7 separate regions of the Homo sapiens genome follow, and all the other regions are linked to region 1. The links come from fine-mapping of genetic effects on gene expression. A gene starts in region 1. Each other region holds a variant in brackets. All regions are shown on one strand. Distances are from middle to middle.

Region 1 (4,000 bases):
CAGGTAAGGACCTCTTTTGTCCTTGCTGGATACAAATATGCTGTATATTGTTTTGTTATTGTTACCCCCCATAACCATGCTAGAAGAAACACCTATATAAGGTGTCCCCATTGTACACATACTACTTAGTCAGGAAACCCAGACCCGTCCAGCCCAGCAACAATTCCGAGTCTTTAAGTCATTCTTTAAACACATAAACCAGAAGTTACAAGAGCCTCCTCCTTTAGCAAAACAAACAAACAACCTATTTGCTCAGCTGGCTGAAAACATTGCCAGCAGCCTAGACGTTTCTTCATGTTATGTTTATAAAAAGGCTAACATGAGAGACCAATGGCCTTGAGAAGCAAAAGATTTAATGCCTCAAGATTACTTTAACTCTTTCCCCAAGCAGATGCCAAGTTCAAGCATTTGGCTCTTAAAAACTCCTATTATTAAGAAATACTGTGTTGCTTGCTAGGAAAAAAGCTTTTAAGACCCAGTAAAAAAACTAACCTGCTTAGGACATGACAAAGTTGGCACATGTGCCTGTACTGGTTTAACACAGGTTTGATCCTAGGTCTTTATTTAAAAGATAGTTTCCAGCTATAAGAGAATTTAAAACCCTCACTGCAAGTGTATTACATAAAACACTATCACTCTGTCTCCCAAAGAGACTCAAAGTAAAAATAAAAGCGAGAACTCCCACTAATTTGTGAAAATTCTCAAAGGAAGGGATAAGGAGACCACTACTACTCCTGCTGCCCTCCTCCCTGCCACCTTGCCTAGTTCATAAGACAGGAGGAAAAGAGAGAAAGCAAAAAGTTAGAAAGAAACAAAAGTCAGATAAATAGCCAGACAACCTTGGCACCACCACGTGGCCCTAGGAGTTAAAAAAAATAATAATAATAACATCAACCCCCGACCTAAACTACTTGTGTTATCTGTAAATTCCAGACATTGTATGAAAAAAGCATTGCAAAACTTTCTGTTCTGTTAGCTGATTCATGTAGCCCCCAGTCACGTTTCCCATGCTTGCTCAATTTATCACGACCCTTTCACGTGGACCCTTAAAGTCGTAAGCCTTTAAACAGGCCAAGAATTTCTTTTTTGGGGAGCTCAGCTCTTAAGACGCAAGTCTGCCGATGCTCCCGGCCGAATAAACCTCTTTCTTCTTTAATCCGGTGTCTGAGGAGTTTTGTCTGTGGCTTGTCCTGCTACAGTAGGTGACAGATGACTTTCATCCCTCATGGGACAACGTTACATCATTCTTATGAAACAGCCATGGCTGCACTCAGACTTAGGAAGGCACTGGCTGTAATGCCAGCACTAAAAGCAAACCAGAACCCAAGTGGAGAAAAGTTAGCTTTCATAAGAGGACTCATCTTTTACGTTCACAAACTTAGGCTCCCTGACTTTTATCGGTAATCAGTACTGAGGACAATGCGTTCCACACCCGCTGGCTGGCTGATGTTTGATTCTGTAACTATACCACGCCCAGAATTCTCTCAAAAGGGAATAAAACACAGGTCAAATTCCTCACCCACACACTCCACAGTTCAACCCCTGCCAGGGAAACCAAAAGCAGGAAAGGATCTCCAGCGGCGCCATTCTCATTTCCGGTCCCAGCACCCCGCCTCCATGACGTCAACGCGCCGCGCCACCGGGCTGCGTCATCTCGGCGCGCCGCTGCCAGGGCTGTACACCTGCTGGCTGCCATGGCTGAGGTGGGCCGTACCGGGATCAGCTACCCAGGCGCGCTTCTCCCACAGGGCTTCTGGGCTGCGGTCGAAGTGTGGCTGGAGAGGCCGCAGGTGGCAAACAAACGGCTTTGCGGCGCCCGCCTGGAGGCCCGCTGGAGCGCCGCCCTGCCCTGCGCGGAGGCCCGCGGCCCCGGGACTAGCGCAGGCTCGGAGCAGAAGGAGCGGGGTCCGGGACCCGGCCAGGGTTCCCCCGGAGGGGGCCCGGGTCCCAGGTCGCTATCAGGACCCGAGCAGGGCACGGCATGTTGCGAACTTGAGGAGGCCCAGGGCCAGTGCCAGCAAGAGGAGGCACAGAGGGAAGCCGCCTCAGTGCCCCTGAGGGACTCCGGGCACCCCGGCCATGCTGAAGGAAGGGAGGGCGACTTCCCCGCCGCAGATCTGGATTCGCTTTGGGAGGATTTCTCCCAAAGTCTCGCCCGTGGCAATTCGGAGTTGCTGGCCTTCCTCACCAGCTCCGGGGCGGGATCGCAGCCAGAGGCGCAGCGTGAGCTCGACGTGGTTCTCAGAACCGTCATCCCGAAAACTAGCCCACATTGCCCCCTTACAACTCCCAGGAGGGAAATAGTCGTGCAAGGTAAGAGTGTTTTGATAGTGGACGGATATGATTAGATAAAAAAGCATTCATAGAACCTCGGGTCAATGAAAAAGTCCTAAGGGTACTAGTTCCTCTGCGATGTCCTAGGGAGGTTGTTAGGTGTTTCATAGTTTTTTGAGTGGGCGCATAGAAATGTGTGTCCTTAGTACAGAAGATGGGATAATTGATTGGGGTGGTGTCTGGAAGGCTTCAAAGAGACAGTGAAGGACTAGCTGGATATTGCGTAATACCTAGGAGTTTAGCAGGTAAAGCTGTAGGTGTAAAAGTGTTGGGGACCAGCCTCAACACCACCCGTAGGGTACTCAAAGTCCGGTGGCGACGAAGGAATGAGACGAGACAGGTTAAGAGTGCATAAAGATTGGGGGCCAGGGGGCCAATTGCAAAATGGAGGCTGCCAAAGCCTGGGAGCTCTGGTCTCCACACTATTGAGTACAATCACTTAGATCTAAGAAGCGGACGTTCGGGGCGAAAGGGTGAAAGGGAGACAGTGCATCATACATGTCATCTATAGCAGTGGCGGTTTAAATGAATCTCCTTTGTGCTCAAACAGCGTTATCTTTAACTTGTCGGAGAATAACCAGTGGGAGCGTGCTTAACTAGGAGCCTGCATGTCTGACCACATTGTAGTGATTCAAAGGAGTGTCTTTCTCCTTGAACACAGTGTTTATAGGTAAGACAGTAGGTCTCGCCCAGAGCATGGGAACATCATGACAATAAGAAGGCTTTCCTCCTCAGAGGCCTCTTGTGGCTTTCCACAACTTATTGTCTCATATTTTTATGGCCAGTTTATACAGGCATGCCATAAGCCTTTTCCCCAACATAAAGAGAGCTATTTATGCTGAGACAAATAACTGTGAAAGAGCATAGAGACTGGATGGATGGGAACCTACTAGTCCTCAGCGTTCGTTAAATCTCTGGCATTTATTTTTACTGCCCGTGACCTTGACACTTCAGCCTCAGCCACTCTTACCTGAAACTTTATTCAGCAGCATGTGTTTCGTATTGCCACTGTAACAAATTACTGCAAATTCATTGGTCAGTACAAAAAATTGATTGTCTCAGTTCTGTAGGTTAGGAATCCCCATTGGCTCTGCTGGTTTCTCCGCTGTGGGTCTCTCTCACGAGGCCAAAATCAAACAGCCTGCCGGCTGGGCTCTTATTTGGAGGTTCTGGGAAGGAATCTGTTCTCAGGCTCATTCAGTTCGTTGGTAGAATCCAATTTTTTATGTAGGACTGGGGTCCTTGTTCCCTTGCTGGCTGTCAGTTGCTGGAGGCTTCTTTCTGGTTCTTTCATGCAGCTTCCTACATCTCAGAGCCAGCAATGGGGTTGAATTCTTCTCATACTTGGAATCTCTCTGCCTTCCTCTCCTGCTGCTTCTCTCCTCCGCCTCCAGCCAGAGAAAATTCTCTGCTCTTCGTGGCCCATGGAGTTAGGCCGGGCTCACCTGGATAATCCAGAGTACTCTTCCTCTTGAGGTCTGTAACCATAATCATGTTTGCAAGTGCCCCTTTTGCCATATAATACAGTATATTCACGAGTCCTGGGTATTACGGCATGGACACTTTTGGGAGGCTCTTCTGCCTACCTCAGGCAGCAATTGCTGGGAGGTACATAGTCCCCTCTGATGGCTCCCAATACTGTCTGCCTCTGTGCCTTTGTAAGACT
Region 2 (4,075 bases), 60 kb after region 1:
GCGTGTGGGGTGGGGAGGGAGGGGAGTGTCCTGAGGGTCGATTTAGTGTGTCCTGAGGGTCGATTTAGTGTCATGCCTCTTTCACCACCACCACCAAAGATGAAACCAACAATAAACTAAATACCGTGTGTTCTCATCTATAAGTGGGAACTAAATAATGAGAACAGTGGGCAGAAAGAGGGGGATCACAGACATGGGGACCTACTTGAGGGAGGAGGTTGGGAGGAGGGACGGGTTCAGAAGAAAACACAAAACTGTCAGATGCTACACTGAGTACCCGGGTGATGAAACAATCTGCACCCTGAACTCCTGAGTCAGGAGTTTACTATATAACAAACCTGCACATGTACCCTTGAACAAGAAATAAAAGCCAAAATAGAGAGAGAGCTCTCAGCCTATGGGCGCAGTGGCTCATGCCTGTAATCCCATCACTTCGGGAGGCCAAGGCAGGACGATTGCTTGAGTTCAGAAGTTCAAATCCAGCCTGGGCAACATAGCAAGACCCTGTTTCTATGAAAAAAATTAAAAATTAGCTGGGAGTGGTGGCATGTGCCTGTAGTCCTAGCTACTCTGGAGGCTGAGGCAGGGAGGACTGCTTGAGCCTAGGAGTTCCAGCCTGGGCAATGAAGTGAGACTCTGTCTCTAAAAAAATAAAAACAGCTGGGTGCGGTGGCTCATGCCTATAATCCCTGCACTTCAGGAGGCTGAGGCGGGTGGATCACCTGAGGTCAGGAGTTCGAGACCAGCCTGGCCAATATCGTGTAACCCTATCTCTACTAAAAATGCAAAAATTAGCTGGGCTTAGTGACGTGCACCCATAATCGCAGCTACTCAGGAGGCTGAGGCATAAGAGAGAATCGGTTGAACCTGGGAGGCAGAGGTTGCTGTGAGCCAAGATAATGCCACTGCACTCCAGCCTGGGCAACAGAGCGAGACTCCCTCTGGAAAAAATAAATAAATAAATAAAATAAAATAAATTAAAAGCCCTAGTCCCCTTAGTCTTAGCTGAGACTCAGCTCAGTGTGTCCTGGAACCTCTTCCCCACTCCAGGGGTCTGAATGAAGCCAGTCTTGCCACCTTTCACAAGTGTCTGGCAGGCACTGTTTACTTTTTTTTTTTTTTTGAGGCAGAGTCTCACTCTGTTGCCCAGCCTGGAGTGCAGTGGCGTTGACCTTGATTCACTACAACTTCCACCTCCTGGGTTCAAGCAATCCTTGTGCCTCAGCCTCCCGAGTAGCTGGGATTACAGGTGTGCACCAACATGCCCAGCTAAATTATTTTGTATTTTTAGTAGAGACGGAGGTTTCACCATGTTGACCAGGCTGTTCTTGAACTCCTGGCCTGAAGGGATCTGCCCTCCTTGGCCTCCCAAGGTGCTGGGAAGACAGGTGTGTTTCCTGTGATGCTGGGACCCCCACCCTGTGCTGTAGCACCCATAGATAGAACCACTTCCTCAGTGTGGGGGTGAGAACGCTTGGGAAGCACTGTATGAGGGAGCTCTGCCCTGGGCCAGAAACCCGGATGCAGCCCTGCCAGGCCCCCAGCTGTGGGGCAGGTGGTCGTGCCACTGCTCAGTGGATCCAATTGAGTGCCTACTGCATGGCCGGCAATTCCATGTGCTGGGGATAGAGTGACAGCAGAGGTGATGGCTTGTGCATGTGCAGGGCGGGAGGTGGCCTGTGGTGGAGCTGGCAGGTGGCCTGAGGGGACCCCTGGTCCATCGGGGGATGTGGGGCAGGAGAGACCCCACCCCCAGTTGGCCCCTGCAGTTCGAAGTCTGAGAGATGGTATGTAGGCTGCTGCTATTAATAGCAGCATGAGCTCTGGGACCGGATGTCCTGGGTTCAAATTCCAGCTCTGCCTCAAAAACTTGCAACCTTGGGGAAGTCACTCAACTTCCTGTGCCTCAGTTTCCTCCTGGGAAAAATGGGGATGAGGATAATCTTGGCAGAGGATTGTTGAGAAGGTTGAGTACATTTGGAGCCTAACAGCTTTAGCGGGC[A/G]CTTGGCCACTGTGAGAACTCAGTGAGGGTTAGCGATTTCACACAAGGGCCTTCTCACCAGGCTCCGGCAGACGGGACATTCCTTTGCTATTTGAGATGTTTTTGGACTCTTCCTCTCCCTCTTTGCCCCTTTCCCTTTTCCTTTCCCCTTCTTCCCTTCTTTCTTCTTATGGGGAGCTAGCTGGGAGGTGCTCAGTTGGGGCCCTCAGTGACTGGAGTCTCAAGGGCTCTGCTGCCATCGGCTGTGAGCTCAGCAGCCCCTGTCCTTTCTGGGCCCCAGCCTCTCCATCCAAAAACCAGAAGGCTGCCTGGAAGGTTCCAGAAGTTGCTCTTGGTCCTGACCCCTGCCCACATCTCTCTGTTGAGAAGACTGGTGCCACTCTGGGGACAGCTGGCTTCCCGCCTCTTCCCGGGTCCCTGGGGAAGTAACTCCTCTCCCAGGAGGAGACAGACAACTGGTCCTCTGAGCAGCAGCTGAATTTTACAGAAGGGCTATTGATTGTTTTGTTCAAAGAGGGAGAATAAATTTGGTTCTGTGAGTCATAACGTGACATTCTCCAAAATGGTTCTGACCCATAAAACGGGGGCTCCTGTTGATATCAGCCCTGAAGGTTAATGGGTGTGTTTTCAGAATACTCTGCCAGGAATGACTCCAGAAACTGCCCTGAGTGCATCCATGGGAATGGTCCTCGGGACAGGCAGCCGCCATGAAATAGACACCCTGCCCTGCCTTCTTCCTGTTGGTGTTTGTTGACCACATCTGCAATCCTCTGATGAAGCAGGGGGTCAGGTGGAGGGAGAGGAAGCTTCTGAATATTTCTAATCTTCAGCTGCTTAAAAAACTACAACGAACTTAGTGGTTTCAAGGACACATATTTAGCTCATGGTGCAGTGGGTCTGAAGTGTGAGTGCAGCTTAGCAAGGTTCCCTGCTCACGGTCACATCAGGCTGCAATCACGGTACCAGCCAGGGCGTTGGTCTCAGCCGAGGCTCAGCTGGGGCAGGCTCTGCATCCACACTCACCAGGATGTTGGCAGTATTCGATTCCTTGCTGGCTGTTGGCCAGAGACTTGTTGTGCCTCAGTTTCCTCTTTGGCAAAGTGGGGTTGATTTTTCCTGGCCACAGGCCCTCTCCCAGGGCCAGCTCACACACAGCAGCACAACCAGTTATGATCTTATGCAAGGCTGTCAAGGAAGCAGTGCCATTGCCTTGGTGGATGCTATTGGTGAGACGCAGGTCCCAGGTCCCAGCTCCCAGATCCCGCTTACACTCAGGGGAGATTAATCAAAGGTGTCAGTGCCAGGAGGTGGGGAACATGGGCCACTACAGGGTCTGCCCACCACTCTCTGGATTGGCCCAAGACCACTTCTTCTTCACCCTTGAACACACAACAGACACAGGCACACACAGACTCAGCACAGGCTTGAATACCATCGGGATGAGGTAATGTCATGGGTTGAGGGGGCGTTCCCCACCCCTCACCTCCCACATGAGAGGCAGAGGCCAAGGTTTGGTTTCTGGCTGTGACCCTGGGCTGCTTTCCCACTGGGTCTCTGCTTCATTATCTGTAGAGGGAGGACTTGGACTTGGCAGGGGTTCCTGGACAATTCTCAGCCAAAGAAACCCGACCCCTTCCCCAGGCTGCAGGAGCCGCATTTAGGGGTGTTCTCCCGCTCTGCACACACACCCTTGAGGGTCTACTCCATTCACCTTGCAAGGCAAGCTGTCCCCTACAGCCCCGGAAAGGGTGGCACTCTATCCCAGCAGACCCTAGGCCGTGGCTGCAGCAGTCGGACCGGCTCAAGCATCTGCCCCGGGGAAGCAGCCTAAAGCAAGAGAATCACCCACATGGGAATCCGGACCCAGGTGTGGAGGACACTGGGCTGACAGTGTGCACAGGGCCATGCACCCACCAGCAAGGGACACAGCACTCGGTCCCAGAGGTGGCCTCTGTTGTGGCCCCAGCCTGCAGAATGATCTCAGGCAGCCACCCGGATGGAGGGTTTGGTGGAACTCCTGGGCCACATACCTCAGAGAACACAGCAAAGAGTCAGCACCCAGTAAGGTGCAGA
Region 3 (4,074 bases), 48 kb before region 1:
AAACCTAGATGGAGCCTCGGTCATATTGGTCTCAATCCCAGCATATGTATATGTATGTGTATATGTATATGTATGTGTATATGTATATGTATATGTATATGTATATGTATATGTATATGATTAATCTTGATTCCATCATCTTTGTTGTCTGCAGTACTGCAAGATTCAATTTCCTTATTCAACTATTTATAGAATCCCGATGAGTTACAAAGACAAAAACTACTAAGGGCATTGCGCAGAGGACAAAGCATGCAAATGAGTAACTTGTGTACAGCCATGGCTACCCGCATGTCAGTAAGTGACAAAGACAGATTGTGGTGGGAGTGAGGGGCCACGTTGCTAACAGCCCATGCTGGAACAGGTGCGAGTTAGAACTGCAGTGGTGGGCGGATGATCGCTGAAAGTGTGTGTGTAGTTCTAGATAGAGCATCACAAAAACTCTCACAAACTTGGCAAGGACCAAGTGCTCCTGGAGGGCAAGAGAGTTTTGCTGATGCTGTGGCTGTTTTGAGTGTGTACATGGCCTTCTTTGAGCAACCAGTTTTTGCCAGTTAATTATTTAAGATTAGCACACGGGAAGTTTTGCAGGTAAGCTGTAAATAATGCTGATGATAATTCTAATAATAACAGCATTAGCAAATAAAAAAGTCATTGGGCACGCACTACATGCCAGATACCATGCTTACACTTCATACGTGGTAATTCACTTAATTCTGGCAAGAACCTATGTTGTGGGTACACTATTATCACCCCCACTTTAAAAATAAGAAAACTGAGCACAGTGAGGTTAAGCAACCTGCCCACAGTTACCAGGCTGTTAGATGGAGCCAGGACTCAATCCCAGGCAAGCTGGTGGCCTCCGCTCTTAACCATATAACAGCTGCCTCAGTCATCATCAATGCCGATATAACTAACTCTTTATCTAAGTGTAAGAATTTTCTATTCAAACAAAACATGGTGCTAGTTTACTACCAAGCTGTTAACCAAATAGTTAAAATTCAAATGAGCAGATCAGCTGCTCTCTGCCTATATTTTGGCCAAGAAGCATCAGGCATCTGAAAGCAGTGGGATCTATCTAGGGCAGGGGTTGGCAAACTTGTTCTGCAATGGACCAGAGAGTAAATATTTTCAGCTCTGTAAGCCACATGGTCTCTGTCACAGCTGCGATTACTCATCTCTGCCCTTGCAGTGCGAAAACAGCTGCAGGAAATGTGCAAATGAACGGGGGTGGCTGGCTGTGTTCCAATAAAACTTTATTTGCAAAAACAGGTGGCAGGCTGGATTTGGTCCTCAGGCCGCAGTCTGCCGACCCCTGGTCTAGAGTCAAACAGCAGGGCTAAGGACAGGAAACCACCATGCGCTTCTCCAAAACCTACTGGCCAGATAGCCGTGTCCTCCACACGCCTCCCGGCATTCCTGAATTCCTTGCTGGGTGGTCCACGAGGCCAGGGGCTTGCTGGCCGATGCCAGGGCGTGGATCTCACGTCCAAGCTCTGCCTTTGGGTGAGGGAATCCAACAAGAACAGGTGAAAAGAGACTTTAGACACCAAAAAGTCATAAGTCAGCAATAGCATCAAACCACCATATCACCTCTAGTCTAATACAAGACATCCCGAAAATGACAGAAGAGGAAACCTAATTGTAATTAGAAATAAAAAAGGGTCTTTATCCAAGTATGGATACACTGTGGTACGCTCATACCATTTCACAACAATGAAAACACAGCTCTACACAGCAAATAGCTCTCAGGGCCCTAACACGGGTCCCAGAAGCAAACTGCAGAAGAATGTGCGTCATGGCCCACTTTATATAAAGTTCACAAACGTCAAAGTGAATGACACACCATGGAAGGTTGCAATTGTTTGCAGCGAAACCATGAAGAAAGGCCAGGGAACCAGACTCAGCACCGCAGACAGTGCTCGCTCCCAGGACAGGGAAGGGCCGGGACCAGTCCATTCCCAGAAGGCTGCAAGCGCCTCGGTAACTGATGGTCTGCTCTGTGTGGGGGCTCACCGTGCCTCCCTCAGGCCTAACATGTTTTATTGAGACTCCTTTGCTGTCCATGGCCAAACTACCCTGAATGAGCCTGATCTCGTGAAGCTAAGCAGGGTCGGGCGTGGTTAGTATTTGGATGGGAGACCGCCTGGGAATAGCAGGTGCTGCAGGCTTTTTTTTAAGGGGAAAAAAAAAA[GAAA/G]GAAGACTCCTTTGCTTCTGCTTGATATCTAATGATGAAAACTTAAGAGGCTGGGCCAGGCACAGTGGCTCACGCCTATAATGCCAGCACTTTGAGAGGCCGAGGCGGGCAGATCAGTTGAGCTCAGGAGTCTGAGAACAGCCTGGGCAACATGGTGACACCCTGTCTCTACTGAAAAATAAAAAAAATTAGCCAGGTGTGGTGGCGGGCACCTGTAGTCCCAGCTAGTCTGGGAGGCTGAGGCAAGAGAATTGCTTGAACCCAGGAGGCAGAAATTGCAGTGAGCCAAGATCGCACCACTGCACTCCAGCCTGGGCAACAGAGCGAGACTCCGTCTCAAAAACAAACAAACAAACAAACAAACAAAAACTTAAGAGACTGATTCAGAGTAAAAGAAGAATTTTTAATTTTAAAAAAGAAAGACAATTAAAAAGGAAAAACAATTAAGAGGAAGACACACACACGCACACACACACACACACACACGCACACACACACACACACACACACGCATGCTAAGTCCAGTGACCCATTTTATGAGTGTTTTCAACTTCACATAAGGGGCTGAGCTGAGGCCCTCCTCTGCCTGGGTTAAACCACTGAGTTTCAGAAAGAATCAGCCTGGTCACCCTTTACAACATTATTCACAGGAGAACAATGCAAGTGTCAGCTGGCAAAAGCTCCACTGACTCACGCTCCAGGGAAAACACAGGCTTAACCCCTTTAGTGGTCAGAAGCGCTCCCTCCTCAGGCCTCCAGGCCTGGGGTTTGCTCTGCCATCAATCCTGCAGGTCATCCCTTCGCCATCATCTGCCGTGAATGTGGACACCGATAATATTTCAAGATATGCTAATTAGATACAGGCTTTTTCTGATGTTGTACATAACAGCAATCTGTGGCGTTTCTCCTCTGCTTTCAAACACGGTTATTTCTTTTGATTCACATTTCACTCTTGCTCAGGAGGCAGCAGGAGGGACAATGGAAAATCAGTTCATAATCATCTACAAAGAAATCCGTTCCCGATGTCTCTTTATGCCGAGGCTGATCTCGGGATTTGCACGCTCGTTTCTGGCACAAATCCTCTGACTGTCAACTCAAATCCAGTCAGTGGGATTCAGACCTTTGTGCAGCTGTTTACAAAAGGCTCAGAACCATGAAATCCACTGAGGGGCGGGTAACGTGGATTTTGCAAAACCGTCATGTTCTCAAAAGGAGACCAACAGCTGAACTCACAGACTGGAACCGGGAGTCGTGTCAGCACATCCTTGAGAGGCAGGGGTGTGGACGCGTGCCCAGCCCGTTCAATCGCGGCAGAGGCCAAGAGCTCCGAGTGGGTGGGAACAACTGGAGGAATGCTCTGTCCTCGCAAATCAAAGGACTGATTTTGCTTTGAAATGAAGGTTGAATCTATGCTGCTCCAACCGTGTGAGATTTAAACGATGCTGCTGAGGAAGCAGACACCACCTCACCTGTCTGGCGCTGCGGTCTCCCGATGCAAGTCCTCGCTGGAGCTCCACCAGGTCCAGGAAGAGCGACTTGGAGAAATGGTCTAAGGCGTAGACAGCTGCCAGATATGGAAGCAAGCGCCATTGCTAGAACAGACAAGACACCTGCGTGAACACATCGTGGTTCCCATGAAGGGCAGCCCATCCCAGGGACCATGAAAGCCAGTGCAGGGAGAGGCCGTCAGGGCCACACACCCACTAGCGCTGAAGGTCTTCACATGTCTTCCCGGCACATCAGAAAGCCTTCACCCTGACACGCTCTCAACTCAGCCAGTTCGGCTTTCACCCATAGCCCTTGACAGACAAGCTCAAACGCAATTCGCTAAATGGCCGCTATTCACAGCTGTCCCATCAAAGTCACTACAGAACAAAGTG
Region 4 (4,075 bases), 87 kb before region 1:
CAGCACAATGTGGGCCTCCTTGCTTGAAAGAATTCAGATGGAGCTTGTGAACCACATAAAAGGTTGAGCAAACCTTGTTCCAAACTCAGTGCAGTGGCTGGGCACAGAGCCGCCCGGGACTGAGCAAACCTCCTCGTCTATCTCCTAGGCAAGGGTGTACATGGAGGGGGTGAATGGAGGAAGGTCCTTCCACAAGTCACTGCACATTTTCCCTTCACAACACAACACGGGGCTCCCACTGACCACTGCAGAGCTGGGGACATCCTCCTCCAAGCTTCACAAAGCAAACCAAGTCCCTTCCTGGGCGGCTGCTGGACAGCCTGGTGGGATGGAAATGAGCTGAGGTCAGTCCCTGCACTTGAATGGGTGCAGGTGGGTGGGGCCTTCCTGGAAGCCACAGGAACACCGGTTTCTGGGTTCTCATGCAGAGTGGCCCTGACTTCCCAGATTTAGGATCAAAGCCCAGAGCCCAAGGGAAACCCTCTGATGTAAGCTGCATGACAGCAAGTGGCCCCAGAGGGGAATGCAAAGGCGAGAGTGCCGGGGACCACGGCACAGCACATGCGGCACAGGCCCGCCCAGGCCAGAGACTGAGCGCATCTTCCCCTCCTCACATGGAGAGTAGAGGCTCCGGCAGGGCCACAGCCCCCCAGCTGGGTTCTTCTGCACGTGCCTGTGGGGCCAAGCAGTCCCCACCGTGGCCAATGCTGGGGCTCCGTGCAAGAAGTCTGTCGCACCCTGCCCAGCTGCCTCGAGCAATTAGGAGGCGGCTCCCACACCAGGAAGGCCACCTCCAAGGTTCCTAGGTCTGGTCCAGAGAGACAGGATGCTCACAGGCAGGCAGCAAGTCCAAACAGAAGCCTGGGCTCCACTCGAGCCATGGCCCCAGGGCTCAGGAGAGCCACCCAGGGTGGACGGAGTCGCATCTGTGCATGCCCACCTTGCACTGCAGAGGGACCCAAAAGTGCTCTGCCCTGGTTTTTATACCCTGGGCACCACTGGGCTCACCGAGCAGACGTGTTGCAGAGTATCCTATCTGGGAGGACCAAGGCCACACCCTGGGCTGTTCGGGTCATTTCCTCCTTTTTCCAGGGTGTTGCATTCGGTCAGTTCTGCAGGAGAACTGCAAGCCAGAGAGGGAAGAGTTGTCGTCCATCCAGGGCCCTGTCCTCCTGCAGTCACGGCCTGTAGTTGTGCTTCCACTGTGGTCCGTGATTCCCATGGCATGCCCCACTCCATAGGGTGGCTTTGGTCTCATCGTGGTGGCACCATGGCTGAGGCCACCTGAAGCTCCTAAGTGTCCAGGGCAATGTCCCCCGGAAGTGAGAGGCCACTTCTGTCCCAACGTCCCCAGCCAGTCTTTAAGACTCAACAGGACCCTTGGACTTTGCCTCATCACTGAGCCAGTCCTTGGGGCCAAGGGAATGGAAGGTGCTAGGGCACTTCAGCTAAGGCGAACCAGTGCCAGTGCTGGGGCAGGGCAGCTTCCCAAGGCTTGGGGCTGTCCACATCTGGGGAGAAATCTGGACAGAACTGGGGTTCTGTTAGTGAGGAGGAAGGGTTGGAAGTTGGACAGGAAGCCCACAGGGTCCACCACACAAGGAGAGAAGCCAAGACCCCCTGACTTCCAGGGGACCCATGGCTGGGGCATGCTTCAGATGGGGACACGGCCCCATGGGACCCATGAAAAGCCTGTGAAGTGTCTTAGTAAAAGGCCCACATGAACAAAGTCAAGGAGGAAGGCAGTTTCTGGTGACGAGGAGGTGGTCCTATGGCACATGCTGTCCCCACACAGTGCTACGTGTAGCTAGGTGTTCACTAAATGCTGGTCAGATGGACACTCCCTGCTGGCC[G/A]GCAGCCCAGGGGCTGGAACCACCTAAAACCTGGAGGGTGGGGTGGATACACAATGATGGGGGAACGTGATTCACGCTTGGGCTGAGCCGTCAGAAGTGCATCCAAACCAAGTTTCCAAGAGGCTGCTCCATGTCAACTACACATCCTAAAATGAAAGAGTTCCCACGCCTCCGCCACCATCAAGATCCTTAGCAGTGACAGCCGCAAAGACCTCAACCCCAAGATATTTCTGGGCTTTCACAGATGATGGGGTCTGGCTGATTTTTATCTTCTTCATCCGCCTGTGGTTTTGAGATGTCTCTGCAGGCATGCATCCCAGCTGGCCCCGTGTAGCCGCAGGAAGCTCCCTCTGTGTTTAAGCTCACAGTGAGAAACTTCTCTCATTCTGCAGGCATCTCCCTTGGTGAGTCACAGAGATTTCTGGCCACGGGCACAACCATGGGCACACACTTGTGTCCACTGCCAAGCAAGACTGTCTTTCCAGTCCACCGTCCACATGGCATCAAACTAATACGAAGGCTGAAGGCATTCCCATAATGGCAGACACCAAGCAATGGTTCCCCAGCATGGTGTGAAAGATTGATCCCGCAGGGCCAGCAGATGTCATTAGACAGGAAAGTTAAATGACGGGTAAAAGTTTTGGAAGGTGTATTAGTCCGTTCTCACGCTACTATAAAGAACTGCCCAAGACTGGGTAGTTTATAAAGGAAAGAGGTTTAATTGACTCACAGTTTAGCATGGCTGGGGAGGCCTCAGGAAACTTACAGTCATGGCGGAAGGGGAAGGAAACACGTCCGTTTTCACATGACGGCAGGAAGGAGAAGTGCCAATTAAAAGGAGGAATGCCCCTTATAAAACCATCAGATCTCATGAGAACTCACTCACCATCACAAGAACAGCATGGAGGTAACTACCCCGTGATTCAATTACCTCCCACCAGGTCCCTTCCATGACTCGTGGGGATTATGGGAACTACAGTTCAAGATGAGATTTGGGTGGGGACACAGCCAAACTATATCAGAAGGGTAAGGGTAAACCATCACTATTTGCCAATGATAGAGAAGGAAAACCAAAGAGAATCAATGAAAAACTGTCATAATTAAAATAAGGTTTCAATAAGGTGACCAAAATAAACATACAAAAATCACACAGCTTTTTATTACAAACAGCTTGAAGAAATAGTCTTAGATGGGAAGACCACTTACCATGAAGACAAAGATTCTCCTGATGTGAATCTAAAAGTTAAACAAAACCTCCAGACAAACTCCAGAGAGCATTCTTTAATATGGGGGTGGGAGAATGCCCAGACTTGACAAATAACACCAAAGTTCACATACATAAGACATTTTTGGAAAAGATGAGAAACGAGGCTTTATTTGCTCCAACAGATATTAAAAGTATGAGAACCACAACCATGAAAACAACAGAAGCTGATGTGAGAAACAACACTAAAATTAAACAGTGCAGACACAGGTCCAGCGACAATGATTTTAGCACTCATACAGGTGGCATTTCGGTCAGTGCATGATGATTCAGTGGGCAAAGCATTTCAGATCCTTGTCTCATATCACACCTCGAAATACATTCCTGGTCAATTAAACACTGAAACGTACTCAGAGAAAAAGAGATGAAAGTGTAAATAATCTTTGTGTGAGAAAGGACTTTCCAAGCATGACCTCAAAGGCTAGAGCATAAGAGTCTTCGTTTTAAAATGTGCAGGCATTTCTGATTTAAAAATGTAAACTATAGCAGGTTACATCAAAAAGGAAAAAAATACAGTTAAATGGCAAATGATGCATGAGGAATAATGATTTACAGTGAATATGTTACAGGTTTGCTGTGCTTAATATGTACAAATATCTTACAAGCCAACAAAATATTTTCAAAACTAAATGCCTTCTTAGATAGAGAACAAGAATGGGCAGTTATCACAGCAGAACATATATGAACAGACTTCAAGCACGGGGGAAGGTATGTTCAGCCACAGTAGGGGCAATAAGAAGGAAATCTATACAGAAGACACCAATTTTATGTTCTCATCAGGTCGGCAACAGGCAGAGAACAAACAGGCCACTGCTGGCAAGACTCCTACATTCTAGAGGGAATGAGGGCTTCCTGTTGAACATGCTGGGAAGAGGAGACTTACCATGTGCTGTCTGCAGGCCGGGCTTTGTTGCTTTCATGCATTAACCCGTTTTAACGCCAACAACAGCAGGATGAG
Region 5 (4,075 bases), 72 kb before region 1:
AACTCCTCAAAGTTTTTGTTAAAAACACAGGAAATTCGGCTGGGCACAGTGGCTCACGCCCGTAATCCCAGCATTTTGGGAGGCCGAGGTAGGCAGATCACCTGAGGTCGGGAGTTTTAGATCAGCCTGACCAACATGGAGAAACCCCATCTCTACTAAAAAAAAATTCAAAATTAGCCAGGTGTGGTGGTGCATGCCTGTAATCCCAGCTACTCGGAAGGCTGAGGCAGGAGAATCACTTGAACCTGGGAGGTAGAGGTTTCAGTGAGCCGAGATTGCACCACTGCACTCCAGCCTGGGCAACAAGAGCAAAACTCCGTCTCAAAACAAACAAACAACAACAACAATAACAAAAAAGCACAGGAAATTCTCTGTCACTTTTTAGAGAAATTTTAAAATGGTTTAAATTTATATGAATATTTTCTTTTTTTTTCTAGTAGAAAACAATTAGGACAATTCAATTATAAAGTACTATAAAACACATTTATAATGAAAATCACCCCTCGCCCTCTTCTTTGGAAATTATTGGCTGGGTGAGGTGGCTCGTTCCTGTAATCCCTGCACTCTGGGAGGCTGAGGAAGGCAGATCACTGGAGCTCAGGAGCTTGAGACCAGCCTGGGCAACACGGCGAAACCCCATCTTTACAAAAAAAAAAAAAAAAAAAAAAAAAAAAGCAAAAAATTAACTGGGCATGGAGGAGTTCACCTGTAGTTCTAGCTACTTGGGAGGCTGAGGTGGGAGGATCACTTGAGCCCAGGAGGTTGAGGCTGCAGTGGGCCGAGATTATGCCACTGCACCCCAGCCTGGGTGACAGAGTGAGATCCTATCTCAAAAAAAAAAAAAAAGAACTGATCGTGGCAGTGGACACGCTGTTTCTTAGTAACTGCAGCCACCGCAGGATGCTGCAAGGCTGCATCGACTGCTGCTCTGAAATCTGCTCTCACACCCCAGGCCGCTACAGGCCGCACAGGTGGCACGTGGCCACCAGCAGCAGGATGCCCTCGCCGAGTGGCCCTTACTGGCTGATTTCTGGACCTGGGCCACCACACCCTGCTCCTCTGGTCCTGCCCCGGGCCAGCACTCCCCTACGGGAGGTGCAGACTTCACTGCTCTCAGCCTAAGTGGCCTCACTGGGAAGATGGGGAGAGACGCTCCTGTCTTGGAGGAAGGTTGTACAAATGAAGGGCGAAGGGCAGCTGAGCAGACACTTCACCCGTGCAGGGTGGAAAGGGGCAGCCCAGACCATCTCCAGGGCCTGGGGAGGTGGTCTATTGTGTATCCAGCTTACGCTGACCCATTTTATTGAGAAGAAACCCCTCTGCCTGCACCCGCTAAATGCACTTAGCAACCCCTCCTCCCCACTCTGCTACTCTGGGCTCCACAGACACAGACCCAGGCTGCTGCTCCACAGGGCCTAGGTTCCAGCTTATGTTTCACAGTTTGGAGCAGCGGGCTTGATTTAAGGATGGTCTCAACTCCCCTGCAGCTCTGTTTGTTCGCTTATAGTGAATTTCTCACCTGGCAGCTCCTGGTTAATACACCAGTTCCTTGCAACTGGAAGGAATGCACTTTTTTTTTTTTTTTTGAGATGAGGTCTCACCCTGTTGGCCAGGCTGGAGTGCAGTGGCGCGATCACTGCCCACCACAGCCTCGACCTCCCCAAGCTCAGGGGATCCTCTCACCTCAGTTTTTGTAATTTTTATGGATGGGGTTTCAGTATGTTGCCTAGGCTGGTCTCAAACTCCTGGGCTAAAGGGATCCGCCCGCCTCAGCCTTCC[A/T]AAGTGCTAGGATAACAGGTGTGAGCCACCATGCTCAGCCAGGAATGCACGTTTAATAAACCATCCTGCCAGCGACACCTCCAGCTGGCTCTGGTTTTAACTATGGAACCCAGAGCCAGGGGGCCCCTCCATCATGGGCAAGGTCTCTCCTTTCCTTGGTCGTTCCCTGCCTCAGAGACGGGCCTGCCTCTGCAGAGCAAGGCACAGCAGGTAGACGCTCAAGGCCGCTCCGGCTTCTCCTGCACGGGGCAGACAGTCCCGTGTGCTTGGGGGTCCTCCATGGCGGGTCTGGCTCCAGTGTCCCTTCGAATGCCTGTCTGCCTGGTGAGCCCCCACCTCCTGGGGAGACTGCCTCTCCCAGGAAGGTGGGTAGGGCAAGTCCCTCTCCTATGCGCTCCCCCAGGACCCAAGGCTCCCGCCAAGTCTTCTCTCCCTACAGCAGGGCACAGTCTCTTCAAATCCTGGCTCTGCCACTCCCTGGCTGGGAAACCCACTGGGCTTCTCTGGCTCTCAGCTCTCAGCGGCAGTCATCATCTGGGCTGTATGGGCTCTGGGGATGGTCAGTGGTCAGTCCCCGATGCAGGACAGCAGGCCCTCTGCAGAGATGACCATCCCTGCCTCTCCTACTACGGGGAACTCTCACCTCCTGCCCTGCCCACCCGGCTCCTGGCACTACCTGCCTCTTGGCACACCTAGCCCAACCCAGGTGTAGCCTGGGCCGCGCTGAGGCCAGGCGCTGGGCCCTCCCTGGCTAAGCCGGTAAGGGCTCATGTACAGACTTCAGCATTCCCTGAGGACTGAGGGAGGGTCCTGCCCACTAAGGCTCAATCTCCATTTGGGCAGAGACCCAGGTGCTTCAGCAGGTGCTTCAGCAGAAATAACTCAGTTGCGGGGCCAGGGGGCAGGGATGGGGTCAAACCCCTCTGTGACTCACAGCCAGGGGACCTCAGGCATGGGACATGAGCATTGACACGCCGAGTCCCTCTAGCAGAAGACAGACACAGCCCCATAAGCAGTGGGGTGCTGGAAGGCACCCAGTGGACCTGTGAGCATCGCTCCTCGAGGGCATCATCAGGTGGGAGGGAGACACAAGGTCAGTGATGAGGCCAGCAAGGGCAGCACTACAGTGCCTGGGGGCACTGCCTCAGCTGGAGGCCAGAGAAGGCCTCTCCAAGGCAGCAATAGTCAGCTTATACTGAAAGAATGGAAGGCACTCCAGGCAGCCCGAGCAGCAGGCACAAGGCCCTGGGGTGGGCATGGGCCTGGCGCGACAGACGGGGAGGCCAGTAAGGCTAGATCTGGTGGGCAGGAGGGGAGCGTGGGGTGAAGGGCCTTGGAAGGATTCAGTGGCTGTGTGGGGCTGGGGCGTGGCAGGCAGTCGAGGAGGCTGGTGGAGGCTCCCTCAGGGGGGCGGCCTGACCCCATCTGCTATGAAGGAATCATTATGGAACATGGGGGGCAGGAGGAGAGCTGAGGAGCCACAGGGAGGCGGTTGGGGGAAAGCGGGGCAGGGGAGAGTAACCCCGGTGACAACCATGGATGGTCAGAGGGGACAGAGGGGCCTGGGGATTCCAGGACAGGGATGGGGGAAGAGGCCTGCAGGGCCAGGAGCATGGTCAGATGGGGGTAAGACCTGGGACCGGGGAGGCCGGGGGGAGTGGGAGGAGGGCAGAGGTCACAGTGTGTGGACCTCCAACCTCTGCCTGTGCAGGCGGGCAGTGCCACCACCCCATCTCGGGAGGAAAAGGCAGGCAGGGGATGGGCAAGTCCCCTGCAACCACAGAGCCAGCATGGGGAAGCACCAGAGTGAGACAGTCCTGACTTGTCCCGGGCCCTCCCCAAGAAGCTCCTCCATGTGTGACCACTTTCCAGAAGACACCAGACCCCTGACCCACAGGAGCATCTCAGCTCCGCAGAAATGCCCATCAACCCTTGGGGCACTCCCGTGAGGCCCTGTCCTCCCTTTACCTCGCCGTCGGCTCTGCCAATCGGTGAGTCCAGAACAAAGTCAGGAGGAGCGATCACGTCTACCAGGGCAACTGCATCGTCTTTCAGCTGTTGGAAAACAAAGCCCAGACACTTGGCACCTCCCGGGAATTTCCATGGTGACCAAAGCATAACAGCCCCGTGTGTGGTTGCCAGGACCCACTAGCAACGGGTCACCTGAGCGGCACGTGCGGCTCTGCTGCCCATGCGTGATCTCTTCACCGGCCTGGATTCGAGGCCCTTGCTGTGCACTGGAATGTTCTCACCATGCTGCTTTTCACTCAGGACTTCTAGGGCTTGTTTCTTCCCA
Region 6 (4,074 bases), 21 kb before region 1:
ATTATATGTGCCAGGCATGGTGGCACATGGCTGTAATCCCAGCTACTCAGGAGGCTGAGGCAGGAGAATCGCTTGAACCTGGGAGACAGAAGTTGCAGTGAACCAAGATTGCACCACTGCATTCCAGCCTGGGTGACAGAGCGAGACTCCATCTCAAAAAAAAAAAAAAAAAAAAATTCTTAAGACTCAATAATAAAATGACAAAAAACCAATTAAAAAATGGGCAAAGGGTTCAAATAGACATTTCTCCAAAGACAGACAAATGGCCAAAAAATACAGGAAAGGCCAGGCACGCTCACACCTGTAATCCCTTTGGGAGGCCGAGACGGGCGGATCACCTGAGGTCAGGAGTTTGAGACCAGCCTGGCCAACACGGTGAAACCCCATCGCTACTGAAAATACAAAAATTAGCTGGGCATGGTGGCGCATGCTTGTAATCCCAGATGCTCAGGAGGCTGAGGCAGGAGAATCGGTTGAACCGGGAGGCAGAGGCTGCAGTGAGCTGAGATTGTGCCATTGCACTCTAGCCTGGGCAACAAGAATGAAACTCGGTCTCAAAGAAAACAAAACAAACAAACAACAACAACAACAAAAACACAGAAAAATATGGTCAACATCATTAGCCACCAGGAAAATGCAAACCAAAAACCCAATGAGAGACCACTTCACATCCACTAGGATGGCAATGAGCAAAAAGATACTAAAATACTAAATGCCGGCTATAGTGGCACGTGCCTGTGGTCCCAGCTACTCTGGGGAGGCTAAGGCAGGAGGACAGCTTGAGCCCAGGAGTTTGAGACCAGCCTGGGTGATACAGCAAGACCTTATCTCTTAAAGAACCAGATAAATAGGCCAGGCGCAGTGGCTCATGCCTGTAATCCCAGCACTTTGGGAGGCCCAGACAGGTGGATCATGAGGTCAGGAATTCAAGACCAGCCTGGCCAACATGGTGAAACCTCATCTCTACTAAAAATACAAAAAAATTAGCCGGGCATGGTGGCAGGTGCCTATAGTCCCAGCTACTTGGGAGGCTGAGGCAGAGAATTACTTAAACCCGGGAGGCAGAGATTGCAGTAGCCTAGATTGCGCCACTGCACTCCAGCCTGGGTGACAGAGTGAAACTCTGTCTCAAAAAAAAAAAGAAAAAAAGAAAAAAGAAACAGAAAAATAATCACAAGTATTGAGAGGATGTGGAGAAATCAGACTCTCATGCCCTTCCAGTGAAAATGTAAAGTGACCCAGCCATTCTGGAGAACAGTGTGGCAGTTCCACAAGTGATTAAACATGGAGTGACCACATGACTCAGCAATTCCACTCTGAGGTATGTACGCAAGAGAACCGAAAACATCACGTCCTCAATGTGTGCAAGGCTCCCCGATTCACACCTCCAGACTCGTGAGCTCATTTGGCAGTCAACGGCAATTCCCCACCTCTCATGTTCTGGAGATGCCCATACTGAGTGTTCAACACTGAATTCAGCCTCTCAGCCCTGACCCAGCTTCGCCTCCTGCACCCCAGTTCCACACTGCCAGTCACCCAAGGATTACTGGAATTACAAACCCCAGTGTCATGTTGGAATTCCCCTCTCCATGCGCCATAACCTCAGTACATTACCAAGTCCACAGTGCATCTCTAACACCTTACGGAATCTTCTCATTTCTCTCCAGCCTGATAAAACCCTCATAACAACCTCCAGTTACTGAGCTGGTGCTGTGTGCAGGTGACTGTGTTAAGCAGCTACA[T/C]AGACCTCAACTGTGCCCACCAAGCCCAAGTACTATCAGTAGTCTCCTTTTCCAGGTGAGGAAACTGGAGCTTCTTAGAGACATTGACCATGGTCATACAACTATTATCAAGCACAGCTGGCTCCAAATCCCCAGATCCTAACAAGTACCTATGGGCCCATGCCACTTGAAGTCACCAACCTTACTGCATTATGGTACAACTGTTAGAGATAAGGATTGTGAAGCCAGACTGTCTGGGTTCAAATCTCAATGTTACAGCTTTCTAGCTGGGTGACCTTCCTAAGATCTGTGCACCTTGGGGGTGATAATACAGTGATGCTGAGAGACAGGACTAGCTGGATTTCCAAGGCTGACTAAGAATTCCTAAGCCTAGCTGGGGAAGGTGACCACACCCACCTTTAAACATGGGGCTTGTAACTCAGCTCACACCAGACCAATCAGGTAGTAAAGAGAGCTCACTAAAATACCAATTAGGCTAAAAACAGGAGGTAAAGAAATAATTAAATCACCTATCCCCTGAGAGCACAGGGGGAGGCACAATGATCAGGATATAAACCCAGGCATTCGAGCCAGATCAGGCAACGCCCTTTGGGTACCCCCCCGTTGAATGGGAGCTCTGTTTTCACTCTATTAAATCTTGCAACTGCACACTCTTCTGGTCCATGTTTGTTCCAGCTCGAGCTGAGCTATCACTTGCTGTCCACCACTGCTGATCATCGCCATCGCAGACCCACCACTGACTTCCACCCCTCCGGATCCAGCAGGGTGTCCACTGAGCTTCTGATCCAGTGAGGCACCCATTGCTGCTCCCAATCGGGCTAGAGGCTCACCATTGTTCCTGCATGGCTAAGTGCCTGGGTTCGTCCTAATTGAGCTGAACACTAGTCCCTGGGTTCCACAGTTCTCTTCCATGACCCACGGCTTCTAATAGAGCTATAACACTCACCGCATGGCCCAAGGTTCCATTCCTTGGAATCCGTGAGGCCAAGAACCCCAGGTCAGAGAGCAAGAGGTTTGCTGCCATTTTGGAAGCGGCCCACCACCATCTTGGGAGCTCTGGGAGCAAACACTCATCGGTAACATTTGCTGGGCTCGTATGGGGATTCTCCAAAGCGGTGAGTAATATTGAACCACTTTCACTTGCTATTCTGTCCTACCCTTCCTTAGAATTGGAGGAAAATACTGGGCACCTGTTGGCTGGTTAAAAATGATTAATGTGGCCACCGGACTTAAGACTCAGGTGTGAGGCTTTCTGGGAAAAGGCTTTCTAACAATCCCCAACCCTTTTGGGTTGGGAGCATTGGTCTGCCTGGAACCAGCTTCCACTTTTACAGTTTTCTTGGGGAAGCAGAGGGCTGACTAGAGGCAGAAAGCTGTCGTCCCAAATTCCCGGCATTGGCCGGTCAAGATCATGGCGCAGCCAGAAGTCTCTACTCAACAGTTGCCCATGCGTGCACCCCTATCTCTCCTTCTGGCCCATACCTCCTGGGTCCTAACCATGACTTTCTTGAAAGTGTAGCCCCAAAATTCTCCTTACCTCTGAATCTACTTCCTCTGATCCCTGCCTCCTAGGTACTAATGCTTCAGACTCACTTCCTCTCCCAAGTATTAGAGCAAGTTGTATCTCCAAAGGGATCTAAGGAAGCTCTACGCTGTGTCCTTAAGCACCTAGGGTATGAACCCAGGGAGTCTTGTCCCTGGTGTCCCTCCCAATTTAGATATACAGCTCTCGACATGGGAAGTTATGTGGGACCTACCACCCTTGCCAGGGCCCCAAGTTTGTAAATGGCTAGGAGGATTGCTCTCCCATTGTGTAAGATGCTCTCCTCCCCCAATTTCTACCCAGCTTACCTCCCCCACTGCAATACAATCTCTAAGCCTAGACTCCTTGGCCAGGGCCTTAGAATTGATGACCCAGTACTTTAACAACTGGAACTGTGTCTACGACAACAGAATAGATCAGGAAGAAAGCGAATTGAGTAAATTAAAGGGAGGCGCATATTCCTATAGAGGCAAATGGGGGCAACGAGCGAACATTCTTCCGCTGTGTTCCCAAAATCCATCTATCAAGAGAGAGAATGAGAGGGAAAGAGAAACAGAGAGAGAAAGGAAAGAGAGAGAGAAGAGAGAGAAAGAAAGAGAGAGGGGGGAAGAAAGGCAGAAAGTCAAAGAGAAAGAGAGAGACAGTCAAAGAGAGAAAGAAAGAGAGAGATATATAAGTAGTTAAGAAAAAAACAGTGTACCCTATTCCTTTAAAAGCCAGGGTAAATTTAAAACCTATAATTGATAATTGAAGGTCTTCTCTATGACCCTATAACACTCCAATACCACT
Region 7 (4,075 bases), 76 kb after region 1:
CCTCCCGCCTTGGCCTCCCAAAGTGCTGGGATTACAGGTGTGAGCCAATGCACCTGGCTTCACTTATTTATTTACCACCCAATTTGTTCTGGGTCCTGTTCTAGGCTCAGAGGAAATGGTCATGGAGGATTCGGGCTGACCACTGGGAACTCACGGTCCAGCGAAGGGCAGCGGTGAACAGCTGTCCTGGCTTTGCCCCTGCGGCAGGCCCATAGAATGACGAGAGCAGTTGGCATCCACAGCATTTCCTGAGCAGATGCTGCCCTTGCTCCCAAGCTGCTCCCAGCCTAACAGAGACAGAGGAACAGCAAGTGTCACCAGGGGCAGGGCCAGGGCTGTGGGAGCCCAGAGGAGTGCCTTACCCAACCCGAGTCGGGTGAGTCAGGAAAGGCTTTCAGGGGGATATGACCCCTGGGATGGCCTGAGGGCCATGCAGGAGGCGGGGCAGGGAGCAGAGGCTGGGCTAGGGGTTGGGGTGCTCCTGACCAAGGAGCAGGCTGGTCCCTCTGCCCAAATATTGTTCCCCAGGCACTGACACAGTTCACTCCCAGTGCCCTCAGCCTCCGCTCAAACGTTCCCTCCCCAGTGCGGGGTGACATGGGGCTGGTTCAGGGCTGTGCCCACTTGGTGAAAGTCCATCAAGCTGTCCTCTGATGACATCTGTACTTCTTCATGTCTGTTATAGTCCAATAAGAAGTGGGAAGTGCCTGAAAATATTGGAAGAGCTCGCCAGGCTTTCCACGCCTCTCTGTGACACCCTCCTTTGAGCGCCTGCATTCCTGGGAGTGAGATGGTTGTCCGTGGTCTCTCCCCCACGACAAGATGGAAGTTCTGCCCAGCTGTACGCTGGGGGTCTGAAACCGTCCCTGTAAACTTCATAAAATTAACCAGGGAAGAATAGAGGGGGGAAAACAAAAATGAACTCAGTGCGGCGCCCTCTGTGCTCGTCCCTGGGTGGCCACGCTCCAACCCACCACCTTGTGCCCATCTGCTGCTATGGCCCCAGAGTCACGCAGGCCCGGCCACAAGAGCATCGCCCCCTCGACTGCTCTGCAGACGACAGCCTGAGCACTGGGAACGTGTTTTCCCCTGAGATACCCCTTCAGGCTCTGCGTGCCAAGGACACTCCTGACACCAGCTGTCCTGAGGACCCCAGAGGAGCTGACTCGCCCAAGAACATGGTCCCAGATACTGATGACTCATCTCCCTTCCCTGACCTGACCAATCAACAAGCCTAATTCTCCAGCCCCTCACCCTTCACCATTCCCTGAAAAACCTCACCCCAGCCCAGGCTAGGTGCAGTGGCTCATGCCTGTCATCTCAGCACTTTCGGAGGTCAAGGTGGGAGGATGGCTTGAGGCCAGGAGTTCAAGACCAGCCTGGGCAACATAGTGAGACTCCATTTCTACCAAGAATAAAAAAAATTATCTGGGCTTGGTGGTGTGTGCCTGTGGACCCAGCTACTCAGGAGGCTGAGGCAGAAGAGTCTGAGTCCAAGAGATTGAAGCTGCAGTCAGCCAAGATCGCACCATTGC[A/C]CTCCAGCCTGGGCAACAGAGCAAGACCCTGTCTCAAAAAACAAAAAACAAAACAACAAAAACAACACCATCACCAGCCCAGAACTCATCAGAGAGGGTTGTTAGAGTTTCACCCATCTTCTCATGAGCAATGTGGCCTTGGCAATGATGTACGGTTGTAACAATGTAACCTTGTAACAGTGTAACCTGAACAAGCTTCTTGCAGATATCTCTTCTGGCTGATTTGAAACCCCAGTGAACGATTGGTGTGCAGATGGAGCCTCATGAGGGCCATGGTCTATTGCCCAGTTCATGAGTGTCTGGGGAGAGAATGGACTTGAAAGAGGAGCTAAGGACTCAGTGCTGATTTTAACAGCCAGAGGCCTTCGCTGGACTTGGGGTTCCAGCTGCTGGGGCTGCAGCAGGCACTGGCATAGTTGTCAACAGCCCCATCAGCCAAATGAATTATTTACAAGTTTTCAAGAAAGGAGACTGCAGGCAGCTGTTGGACCAGACAGAGGATAGAAGCCTCCAGGAGAAATAGGCAGTTTTCAAGGTTTCCTGGTATAATGATTCATCCAGAAATTTATTTGAAAAATTCATTTGTATCTAGTGGTGATCATGGCACGTCAAGACAGGGCCCTCCTGAGTTTCCTGCCCCTCTTTCAGTGCCAGGGAGCAGAAGAGGGAGGGGGGCAGAGGAAGCAACAGTCATCTGGTAGGGAGCTTGATGTCTCCAGGGTTCAGGAGGGGGCAGCAGGTGTGTCCCGACTCTGTTCCTCAACCTGCCGTGTGAGGCTGGGGGAGTCGTGTCCTCTCTGGGCCCCTGAATCCTCATCTGAGACCTGCACACAGGCCACGTGGCTCTAGGGTCCTTCCAGCTTAGCTGTCCTGAGTCCCCTGACCTTGATGACTGGCTGGATGTTATGCCCTTTCAAGAAGTCTGTCTTTGGCCCCATGAGGCTGTGGCTCAGGGGAGGGTAGGGCATGCAGGAGAGAAGGCACCAGCTCTGGGGTCAGACACACCTGGCTTGGTACCCGGCCTTGCCCATGCACCTGAGTAACCTGCGCTAGGCCCTTCCTGTCCTTGCCTACACAGGGTGGGCACTCGGATGGCACCTCCTGGCTTTCAGGGAGGGAGTGTGAAGTGGGGCCAGTGGGGTAGCTTTGGGTGGGGCCCTGTGGGGTCTGCATACCCCTGGAGCTGAGTGACAGCATGAGAGGGTCACCAGCACAGCCGAGGGCCTCTCCTGCTCCACCTCCAGCCCCTCACTCAGAGAGCCCCCAAAGGCACGACTGCCGGAACCCAGTCCCTCGGCAAAGGCACGCCTGCCAGAGCCCAGTCCCTCTGGCCGGGGCAGGGCCTGACACTTTGGCATGACCAGCTTCTTCCTGCACAAGCTCTGGAAGGTCCCATTTCTCCCTGGGGTGACCCGGACTTGAGGCCACGTCAGCAGTAGGCCATGGCTGGGAGGTGCCCATTTCTCTCGAGTTTGCACGAGGCACAAACTTCTGGCGTGGACAAGAGAGGGCGGGGGCCTGGGCAACTGCTTTTGCTCTTTTGGCTGAGAAGGAAAAAGTGACTTCCAAGAACTGAGGCGCATTCTAGAATCTCTCTATTCTGAAAGTGACCTTTCTCTGAGCCGGCACTCCTAGAAGGAACTGATTCTGGCCATGCAGGCTGCAGCTGGGCATTAGGGCAGAAGGGAGGGCGGGAAGCTGCTGGGCTTCTCTTTGCCCCAGAGAGAAGCAGCAGTGAAGATGCTGGGATTTGGGGAGTGTGGGCTCTGGCCTGGACAATTGGGTACCAGGTCTCGCATGCCCCCAGCTAATATCAGGCAATTTACCTTAGCCATCCTTATGCAAAATGAGAAAGGAGCCCTCACCATGCGGGGTGGCTGGGAAATGTCAGAGGGTGTCCCCACATCCTGGGTCAAGAATAGCCTTCGGGCCGGGCGCGGTGGCTCACGCCTGTAATCCCAGCACTTTGGGAGGCCGAGGTGGGCGGATCACGAGGTCAGGAAATCAAGACCATCCTGGCTAACACGGTGAAACCCCATCTCTACTAAAAATACAAAAAATTAGCCGGGTGTGGTGGCAGGTGCCTGTAGTCCCAGCTACTCAGGAGGCTGAGGCAGGAGAATGGCGTGAACCCGGGAGGCGGAGCTTGCAGTGAGTTGAGATCGCACCACTGCACTCCAGCCTGGGTGACAGAGTGAGACTCTGTCTCAAAAAAAAAAAAAAAAAGAATGGCCTTCGATACAGGCCCTTCTCTGCTCACAGCCCCTCTGGGAGCTGCCTCTCCTCTTCTAGCTGCACCAGCCCAGCAGAGGTGTGATGGGGACTCCTGGGCTGCCCCTGTCAAATGGACAGGGGTGCGGGGAGACACAGAGGCAGCTGCAGCTTCATCTAATGTTTTCTCCCATTCTCTCTGACTCTGATCATCTGAAGGTGGGGTGGGATGTGCCATGCATGGGGTGTCATTTGCCTCGAAATCTTCTTTTCTGTCCCAGTATTATCTCAGTTGAGGAGAAGGGCAAATTGTCTGCCATCCCAGGGGC

Evidence for each region. PIP is the estimated chance that this variant, and not a neighbour inherited with it, causes the effect.
Region 2: its variant is the best candidate, but not a certain one, in a credible set for the expression of ACOX3 in whole blood (TOPMed, PIP 0.63).
Region 3: its variant is the best candidate, but not a certain one, in a credible set for the expression of ACOX3 in testis (GTEx, PIP 0.78).
Region 4: its variant is the best candidate, but not a certain one, in a credible set for the expression of ACOX3 in sigmoid colon (GTEx, PIP 0.68).
Region 5: its variant is the best candidate, but not a certain one, in a credible set for the expression of ACOX3 in monocytes (TOPMed, PIP 0.89).
Region 6: its variant is the best candidate, but not a certain one, in a credible set for the expression of ACOX3 in whole blood (INTERVAL, PIP 0.82).
Region 7: its variant is the best candidate, but not a certain one, in a credible set for the expression of ACOX3 in whole blood (TOPMed, PIP 0.52).

What each region holds. Positions count from the first base shown.
Region 1 is chr4:8,439,129-8,443,128 of GRCh38, forward strand. It overlaps ACOX3 (acyl-CoA oxidase 3, pristanoyl), which reads right to left and starts at 1,595. Exons shown (of 18, transcript NM_003501.3): 1 at 1,520-1,595. TRMT44 (tRNA methyltransferase 44 homolog) reads left to right here and starts at 1,649. Exons shown (of 11, transcript NM_152544.3): 1 at 1,649-2,313. The coding sequence starts at 1,695. RefSeq lists enhancers at 1,483-1,722, 1,541-2,274 and silencers at 1,743-1,952, 2,003-2,062.
Region 2 is chr4:8,499,552-8,503,626 of GRCh38, forward strand. It overlaps a transcript of TRMT44 not described here. Among named protein-coding and RNA genes, the nearest start is that of TRMT44, 61 kb to the left of the region's middle. The variant A/G (reference allele first, on the strand shown) is at 2,003.
Region 3 is chr4:8,390,957-8,395,030 of GRCh38, forward strand. ACOX3 (acyl-CoA oxidase 3, pristanoyl) reads right to left here. Exons shown (of 18, transcript NM_003501.3): 10 at 3,664-3,786; 11 at 1,377-1,497. It also overlaps the pseudogene RNA5SP152. Among named protein-coding and RNA genes, the nearest start is that of ACOX3, 48 kb to the right of the region's middle. RefSeq lists enhancers at 1,674-2,479, 3,210-4,074. The variant GAAA/G (reference allele first, on the strand shown) is at 2,192.
Region 4 is chr4:8,352,106-8,356,180 of GRCh38, forward strand. It overlaps a transcript of ACOX3 not described here. Among named protein-coding and RNA genes, the nearest start is that of LINC02517, 34 kb to the left of the region's middle. RefSeq lists an enhancer at 1,184-1,734. The variant G/A (reference allele first, on the strand shown) is at 1,854.
Region 5 is chr4:8,367,161-8,371,235 of GRCh38, forward strand. ACOX3 (acyl-CoA oxidase 3, pristanoyl) reads right to left here. Exons shown (of 18, transcript NM_003501.3): 17 at 3,748-3,834. Among named protein-coding and RNA genes, the nearest start is that of LINC02517, 49 kb to the left of the region's middle. The variant A/T (reference allele first, on the strand shown) is at 1,780.
Region 6 is chr4:8,418,304-8,422,377 of GRCh38, forward strand. The region is part of intron 1 of ACOX3 (acyl-CoA oxidase 3, pristanoyl); the gene reads right to left. Among named protein-coding and RNA genes, the nearest start is that of ACOX3, 20 kb to the right of the region's middle. RefSeq lists an enhancer at 1,192-1,241. The variant T/C (reference allele first, on the strand shown) is at 1,743.
Region 7 is chr4:8,515,208-8,519,282 of GRCh38, forward strand. It overlaps a transcript of TRMT44 not described here. Among named protein-coding and RNA genes, the nearest start is that of GPR78, 63 kb to the right of the region's middle. The variant A/C (reference allele first, on the strand shown) is at 1,536.